2 separate regions of the Homo sapiens genome follow, and region 2 is linked to region 1. The links come from fine-mapping of genetic effects on gene expression. A gene starts in region 1. The other region holds a variant in brackets. All regions are shown on one strand. Distances are between the middles of the regions. Region 1 holds the start of IRF6 (interferon regulatory factor 6). Region 2 overlaps TRAF3IP3 (TRAF3 interacting protein 3).

Evidence for each region. PIP is the estimated chance that this variant, and not a neighbour inherited with it, causes the effect. A credible set is the group of variants that fine-mapping cannot tell apart.
Region 2: its variant is the best candidate, but not a certain one, in a credible set for the expression of IRF6 in lung (TOPMed, PIP 0.73).

What each region holds. Positions count from the first base shown.
Region 1 is chr1:209,804,079-209,808,472 of GRCh38, forward strand. IRF6 (interferon regulatory factor 6) reads right to left here and starts at 2,064. Exons shown (of 9, transcript NM_006147.4): 1 at 1,869-2,064. RefSeq lists a silencer at 1,986-2,329.
Region 2 is chr1:209,775,402-209,779,795 of GRCh38, forward strand. TRAF3IP3 (TRAF3 interacting protein 3) reads left to right here. Exons shown (of 17, transcript NM_025228.4): 10 at 1-88; 11 at 198-335; 12 at 1,951-2,086; 13 at 2,710-2,772; 14 at 3,914-3,973. It overlaps C1orf74 (chromosome 1 open reading frame 74), which reads right to left. Exons shown (of 2, transcript NM_152485.4): 2 at 3,807-4,394. Among named protein-coding and RNA genes, the nearest start is that of C1orf74, 7.0 kb to the right of the region's middle. RefSeq lists a silencer at 2,469-2,669. The variant T/C (reference allele first, on the strand shown) is at 1,935.

The DNA of each region.
Region 1 (4,394 bases):
TTCCTACAATGATATGTTTCAATTTATAATTTAAAAAACTACAAGTAATTTTTTCTTAACCTCAGGACAATAAGACATTTCTTATGAAGGATGGTAACAACAATCCTTTGTATCTGTGTAGGCTTTACAATTTTTACATGAACCTTTACCTAACATGTCTGATTTCATCCTCATAAACCTGAATGTGATATTACTATCCCCATTTTACATCTGGGCTGAGGTGCTTTATTTCCTAAGTCACAGTGTTCTGTACCAAACCCTGCCACTGCACCTTGTCTTCCATGTCCCTCTCATCTTCTGCGCACCAAGAAAGTAAACTAAAAACATCAACAAAGATCCCAGCAGCATAGAGGGCCAATAAAGTGATTGAGGTGGAGACTGCATAACATCCACTCTCAAACACACCTAAATCAGAGTTCTCTTTCTAAACACTCTTGCCACCCAAATCCCAACGCCTGAAGAACCACCTTAGCCTAGTTGAACTCATCTTGGTATCTCTAGCTGCCATCACAGCAAAATGTAAGGCCTGTGTCTCTAACAGGTACTTAAACAGCCAAAGGACAATGATGCTAACCTATCTATTCCCCTCACAGTGAGCATAGAGGAGGGACACTTTCAGCCTCCTCCGAGCATAACTGTCCTCTCCCATACCCCTATTCTAGGGAGCAGGTCCTCCATAAACACCCTCATTGCCACCTCCATAGCTCCTCCCCAGACTAGTTTCCAGGGGCACTGCCACACAAAAGCCGAGATTTGGCCGTCAGTGGTTTTGCTCAGGTTAAAACACACGCCATTTCTCGCAGACAATTCTTAGCAGTCCCAGCTCTTCCCTTTCTCCTGAAAGAAATGAAATGCCATCGTCTAAGTTCCGTTCCTCAGGCTTCCCTGTTTAGCCCTGCTTAGGGGTAAACTGCAGGCCTCTAGTCAAAATGCCCACACCCTTCCCTTCTGCTGGATGGAAGCTGGGGGATGGCGAATGGGAGTTACAAGGTATTGAGTGCCACTGTCATACATCATACACACGTCTCATCCTAAACCACACTCCTGGGTCAACACCAGCTTTCACCAATCCCACCCAAGCGCCTTCCTCTCTCTATCCATCTCTTTTCCCTGACTTCCACTCTTGACATCCACCAAGAGAACAGGTTGGAACAGGATGACCCCTTTACCACAAAGCAGGCTCCCTGTAAAGAGTGACACCTCAGGCCTCCTTTCCAAGTCAGGCCTGGGAGACTTTCCCCATTCTCCACACCACCCTCCAGCCCCTTCGGGCAAAGAGGGCCCACCCCCAGAGCAACCACACCCCAGCGCCACCCTCCCCAGCACCTAGCTCCGCTCCTTGGAAATCCAAGGTTGTCTCCCAGGCCCAGGGCGAAGGGCCTAACTGTGCCAAACAGACTCAGGGAGGGAAGACAAACCGCCAATGCTCCAAAGCTCCTGGCCACCCTCACTCCAGTTTCCCAAAACGCCCACTAGGATCAAGGACCTGCGGACCTGGGAAGTCCCCTCTCTGGGACACAGGGGCCAGCCGCAAGTTGGTAAGACTGAAGGGGGCGCGGTGCTTTAGCTCTACCGGATAGTGGGGTTGTTGACGGCCGAGAGCAGTGCCCTCCGCTTCGGCGGTGGGGGTAGGGAGAGTAGACACAAGTGTAGATTCGAGAGGGGCCTAGCGCTACAGAACTGAGGCCGCCCCAAAGCTATCTGGAAAAGGGCGACAGGCACCCAGCCCCAGTGGGTACCCACCCCAAACACACAGATGCCCCCAAGCAAGTTCTCTCACCCCCTACAAACTCCGGGGATGGGTCCTACCCCACCCACGGGGGAGCCTCTCCTCCCTCAAGCTGGTCCCCAGAAGTTGGCGTACCCACCTTTGCTCAATCTGTCCACCAGAAGCGGACGTCCCTCCGAACCAAGTCCGCAGCGAAGATCACCCGTCGCTACCACGCTCCTCGACGTCTTAGCCAAGGGGCGCCTGGCTCTACCCAAGTAGGGACTGCAGGTTCCTCTCCCCGTCCCGCACCAGCCCTTACCTGCCCAGCCCAGGTGCGCCGAGCTCACGTCAGCGCCTCGCCCCAGGACGCCGCAGCCTTCGCATCCGCCCGGCCACGCCTCCCAGGTGTGGCCACGCCCCCCGGCGTTCGGGATTGGCGAGTTGCAAGAAATATGACACTCCGCGTTTCTGGGCTGCCCGGCCCAGCGGCGTCCGTCCAGCGTCCCACCCTACTCCTCCGCTTCTAACTCCGGCTAAGAAAGTCCCAGATTCAGGCCTAGCCTTACGGCTCAGGGCTGGTGGTCCTGGGAACTGGAAGCGACTGGGAGTTCAGATCTAAGTCGAGAGGGTGCCTCCCTCCTTCACGGCCCATAATTACCCTGCAGTATGCAGACAGTTAAGCACAAATAAGGGTTTTGAGATTCTGGGTTGGCCCTACTACTCGTGGGCCTGTGTAAGTGGAGTTGCACATGAAGAAGAGAACCAGGACACTTGGTCCTGTCTGGGAGAAGCCATAGGCTTTCAGGACTAGAATTCTACCTTTACTCTGCCTCTTACCCGTGTGACCCTGGGTAAGTTACTTAGCTTCTTGGCTTCTTGGTTTCAGTTTCCTCATCTCTTCAATGAGAATAATAATTCCTTCCTTCTTTTTTGTTGTTGTTTGCTTTTTTCTCTTTCTTTTTTCTTCCTTTTTTTTTTTTTTTTTTTTTGGAGATGGGGTCTTGCTATTAAGTTACACAGTCTGGTCTGCAACACCTGGGCTCAAGGGATCCGCCTCAGCCTCGCAAAGTGCTGGGATTACAGGCACTGGCACCCAGTTCAATTCCTTTTTTTTTTTTTTTTTTTTTTTTTAGGCAGGGTCTGGCTCTGTCATCCAGGCTAGAATGCAGTGGCACAATCATAGCTCAACCTCCTGGGCTCAAGCAATTATCCCACCTCACCCTCCCAAGTAACTGGAAATATAGGCATGGGTCACCATGCCCGGCTAATTTTTTTTTTTTTTTTTTAGAGACAGGGTCTGACTATGTTGCCCAGACTGGAGTTCCTGCTTCCTCTGATCACTATCGTGTAATGAGTAAAAGCATAGCCTCTGGAGCCAACTATTGGGGTTTAGACCCCAACTCCATCAGTTACTACAGACTTGGGAAAGTTTCTTAAGCTTTTTAGGCCCTGGTGTCTTATCTGTAGAAAGAGGTTAGTAATAGTACCTACCTCAGGGGTATTGTGGGAATTCAATAACTACATGTAAACTGCTTGCAACAATATTTAGCACTTATCAAGTGCTTTATATGTACTTGCAATTATTATTGGCATAAAGATTAAAAATACCATATAGACAGTGCGTCAGAGAACAAGAAGGCATTCCTTGTTATTACCTGAAATTCAAGTCCTGCATGTACCCTAACAGGTGCTTGATGAGATTGCCCTCACCTTCCTCATCTATCTAGAGGACCGGTTTGCAGGAGGCTGTGCAACAGTAAATGAGACTTTTAAAAATCCCCCACCCTCAACCACTGAGCTGTCGTAGGTGAAATGGGGCATGCGCAGGTCACTTAGGTTTTGGTGTTTAAAGTAATGAGTGAGAAACTGTGGAGGAGTGGTACAATGAGTTGAACTGTCACCCACATACAAAAAAATTTGTATTTGTATTTTGAAGTCCTGACCACCCCCACTGCAACCACAGCCAGATGTCAGAATATGACCTTATTGGGAGACAGGATCCTTATGGAGGTAATCAAGTTAAAACGTGGTTATTAGGGTGAGCCTGAATCCAATATGAATGGTGTCCTTATAAAAGGAGGAGATTTGGACACAGAGGCAGATACCCACAGAGGGAAGGTGATATGAAGAGACATAAAGAGAAGACAGCTAGCTGCAACCCAAGGAGAGATACCTGGAATAGAGCTCTTTTTTTTTTTTTTTTTTTCACATCCCTCAGACCCTTGATTTTAGACTTTTAAACTCCAGAACTATGAAACAAAAAATTTCTGTTGTTCAAGCCACCCACTCTGAGGTACATTGTTATGGTAGCCCTAGCATACTCATACAAGTGTGTTGAAGAGCCCCAGATTGATAATAATGTAGGCATGATTCCAAGTCCCAATTTAGCTTTGGAATGTAGCCAGCAAAGGCCTGGGAAGGCAGCAAGGCCCCAAGGCCTGACTCAGCCAGCCTCTGTCTCAACCACTGCCCTGTGGCCACTCTTCCCTTCACTGGGGGAAGGGCAAGCTCATCAGCACAGCTAGCTGTTTACTGCTGATGAGCTCACTAGACAAACAGCATCTTCCATCTGGCCCAGGGCTGGGCTCTGGGGACCAAACAAGCTCCACTGCAGGTGTATGAGAGGGATGAGGGGTAAGGCCATTGGGAGAGTGTCATTTGAGGGGAGTCAAAACCCCAGTGG
Region 2 (4,394 bases), 29 kb before region 1:
AAACAGCTATGAGCAGAAGGCCAAGGAGTCACTGCAGAAAGTGCTGGAGGAGAAAATGAATGCAGAGCAGCAACTACAGAGCACACAGGTATGGGGATGCCACATAGACATGGGGCTGGGGACTCCAGGCAGCTTGGGGAACAAGGGGAGCCAGCTGCACAACTCCCTGGAGCCCTCTCCTCTCTGATCTCCCTCAGCGATCCCTGGCCCTGGCAGAGCAGAAGTGTGAAGAGTGGAGGAGCCAGTATGAGGCTCTGAAGGAGGACTGGAGGACCCTTGGGACCCAGCACAGGGAGCTGGAGAGCCAACTCCACGTGCTTCAGTCCAAACTGCAGGTACCAGGCACTGGGGGTGGGGAGGGAAGACAGGGTATGGGGAGGAGGGATGGTGATGAAAGAAGCTGTTCTGGATTAGGGACTCCAAAGGCAGCTGACAGCATCTGGCTTTCAGTTCCTCAGTCACCACTACTTTGTACCAAATTCACTGTTTTGGCTCTGAAATCTAATTTTGAGTTTAGCAAGGATGTCTGCATTGCTCATGCAAATGAACTAAGCGTTCATTGGAATGACACCATCACCACCCAAATGAAAAGAACTGGCTGGAATATTCATCAGCCTACTAATGTCATCTCCCAACCCACTCTCCAAACTCCATCCCAAAAAAGCATCCAGTTCAGAATTGCCCACTGTTGGCAAAGAAAGAATGTCACTAATTTATTTACAGGTGAGTATTAACACTTTCTGCCAATGTGTATTTTAAGCAATTACATTTAGCAATTACAATTAGATTCTTGGCATCCTCAAGGGTTCCATCATCTTCAATCTGTCCTAAGCCTCAGTTTCCCCATCTCTAAAATGAGGATAATAGTACCTACATCATAAGGTGGTTCTGAGTATTAAGTAAGATGATCCATGTAAAGCACTTAGCACAATGCCTGGCACACAAAAACACTCAGTAAATATTAGCTATTATTTTGCATAGATTTATTTACCTGGTTTGGAATTTTGAGGATCCACCTCAAAAGCTGATCTTTGTAATTTTCCTGAAGCAGGGCTCAGAACAGCCCACTTGATAAGAGACAGAGTATGTGAGTCTTATCAAAGGAGTGAACCCAGCTGGTCACTCTGCGTGGTATCCACAGCTCAACCTTTGTTGTTTTCTTCTTCCCATCACCTATAAGGCAACTCCTATGAAGATTTTTGTGAGGGGTTTTTTAACTTTAAATCTTTGTGGAAAAAAAAAGACCCTAACCAAAAAAAAAACTGATACTGCCAGAAGTAGAAAAAAGAGAAAATGAAAACATCCAGAAAACTAATGACTTTGTATTCCTTAATTTGGTGATTTACCAAAGTGTCAAGACATGACTCCCACACCAATGACAACCACTTACATTTCCCCTAGAATGGCAGATTTTTTAACGTACTGGGTTTCCTAAAGCAATTCTTATTTTATATATTCTAATTTATGTACATGAATGTGTCACTTAGACCTGTCACTAGGGATGGTTTAGAAAATAAACTTACACTGCACATGCCTCAGTCCACTTCAAAACTACTGGCAAATGCCTGTAGTCCCAGCTACTCAGAAGGCTAAGATGGGAGGATTGCTTGAGCCCAAGAGGTCGAGGCTGCAATGTGCTATGATGGCACCACTGCACTCCAGTCTGGGTGACAAAGTGAGACCCCATCTCTAAAAATAAAAATAAATAAATAAAAGACGCGAGTTCCTTGTGAATATCAAAAGTCTAATCTGCTGTTATAAATATGAGGAACAAAGCAAAGGGAAGAAATAGGAAAAAAGAAAGACTTCTCTATTTTCTCATCTCCCTAACATTCCTTCTATCTCTAAAATTCCAGACTTTTCTACATTTTCCTCTTCCATGGTACCCGCCCCCCAACCTCCACCCCAACACTGACCTCCTTCTATATTGGCCC[T/C]TCCTCCTCCTTACAGGGAGCAGATAGCAGGGACTTACAGATGAACCAGGCCCTGCGATTTTTGGAAAATGAGCACCAGCAACTGCAGGCCAAGATTGAATGCCTGCAAGGGGACAGAGACCTGTGCAGCTTGGATACCCAGGACCTACAAGGTACTCTTCTCCTTGGAGGCCTTGAGTGCATGGCAGCCATGGCCAAGTGAGCTAAGAAAAAAGAAACTGAATTAAGAGAAAGGCTTCAGCCTTTTATTTGTTTGCTTGATTGGTTGATTGGCTTTATAATCTCATTTTACCTTGAGGGAGAGGCAGGACTGTTTTAATCATCCAAAATTGAAAATTAATTTCACTGTAGTAGATAGAGTATCTTGTTGTCTGAGCTCTCTTTTTTAGCCCATCCCTCTGGGCCAGATCACAGCTGCTCCCACATCAGTCACATATGTCAAGGCCACAGTCCTAATTTGAAAGGGAAAGGTCAGTTGAAACACAAGGCATAGAGAAAGTCTCTCAGTCACATCCTCTGTGTCCGCTGATAGAGAGGACTAGATAGTGTGTAAACACAAGCCTCAATGCAACCCAACATTGTTGATGCACAAAAACCTGAGGTACTTGGCTTCTGGTTTACCTCTTCAGAACTGGGACACGAAGATAGAGCAACTTCCAATAGACACACGTTAAAGACCATGACAAGACAGCATCTATTACTAATTTCCATCCTAAGTACTGAGTTCATTAAGTCTTGGGTTCCTTTATTTTGGCTTGCATTATTGCATTTTCAGATCAACTAAAAAGGTCAGAGGCAGAGAAACTCACCCTGGTGACCAGAGTACAGCAGTTGCAGGGTAAGTTCGCTTTCCAGATTCTGAAAGTCCACAGGGTTTTCCTGGGGTCCTGGCCCACAAAAGGCACCCAGAGTAGGGACTAAGGGCCCAGTCTTTGGCATATGCTCTAACTCTGTGCACTTTCAGACCCTCTTCTTGTAAAGTGAGGTCATTTACATAGCTCTCCATAAATTATGTGTTAGCCTCTGTTCTTTTTTTTCTACTGTTCTCCTTCCATGCCAATGACACCACTTACATTTCCCCTAGAACTGCAGATTTTTTTTAAATACTGGGTTTCCTAAAGCAGTTCTTATTTTATATATTCTAATTTATGTACATGAATGTGTCACATAGACCTGTCATTAGAGATGGTTTAGAAAATAAGCTTACACTATACGTGCCTCAATCCACTTCAAAACTACATATTGGGCCCAAAGAGGAAAAGGGACTTCTCAGAAGAAAAGCAGTTTCTGAAAAGCTGGAGAACCTGACTCAATTAATACAGCTGCTGGTTGCCCACCACTTTAACCTCTGACACCTGATAGAGAAGCTTCATGAAAGCAGCAATGATTATTAAGAGAGCAAAGCAACCACAGGGAAAAGGGAAAATCTTCAAGCAAAGACTTGAAGATAGAGACATGGTAGGGGGAGATATAAGGATGCTATATTCATAGCAAAGTACCACAGACTGGGTGCCTTGAAGAACAGAAATGTATTGTCTCACAGTTCTGGAGACTAGAAATCCAAGATGTCAGCAGGGTTGTTTCCTTCTGAGGGCGTTTAGGGAAAGATCTATCCCAGGGCTCTTTCCTTGGCTTTGTAGATGGCCGTCTTCTCTCTGTGTCTCTTCACATTGTCTTTCCCATGAACATATCTGTGTCCATATTTCCCCTTCTTATAAGGACACCAGTGATATTAGATTGGGGCCCACCTGAATGACCCCATTTTAACTTGATTATCTTTTAAAGAATCTATCTCCAAATAAGGTCATTATTTAAGGTACTGAGGGTTAGGACTTCAACATATATATTCTGGGGGACAAAATTCAACACACAGCAGATGGGAACATATTTAATAACCAAGGTTCTAAGCAAAGTTCTGAAAAGAAAACTTTTTGTAGTAAATATGCTAGCATAGACAAGTTCCTTGTGTTTTCCAACAGGTTTGCTTCAAAATCAATCCTTACAGCTTCAAGAACAGGAGAAACTCTTAACAAAGAAAGGTCAGCAAATTTATTACCACAAATTCTAAGATATTGCTCTTCTCTTACCTGCCTAGAGGCAGCGGGATGGACTACATGACCTCCTGGAGTCCCAGCCAGTTCTGGGAGTCTGTTAAGTCCGGGATGTGTGGGAGCTTTTTAAGGACTGATCATTGGCTCTGAGGACACTTCAACTAGTTAGCCTTCTATCTTGAGGTATATAAACTGTGAAAAAGGGTTTCTATTCTCTCTGAAAGCACATGTCTGTGTTGAACATTTCAATAAATTTATTTTGAACTCAGGATTTCATGTCAATTTTTACACACTTGATTTTCCAAATCACATCCAACTCCCCAGCCCCAAACCACATAGCAGTCCAGAGTCAACTCACTGTTAGCCCTAGAGAGTCTACTGTCCATGTTTCCTGAGAATTCACTGTGTA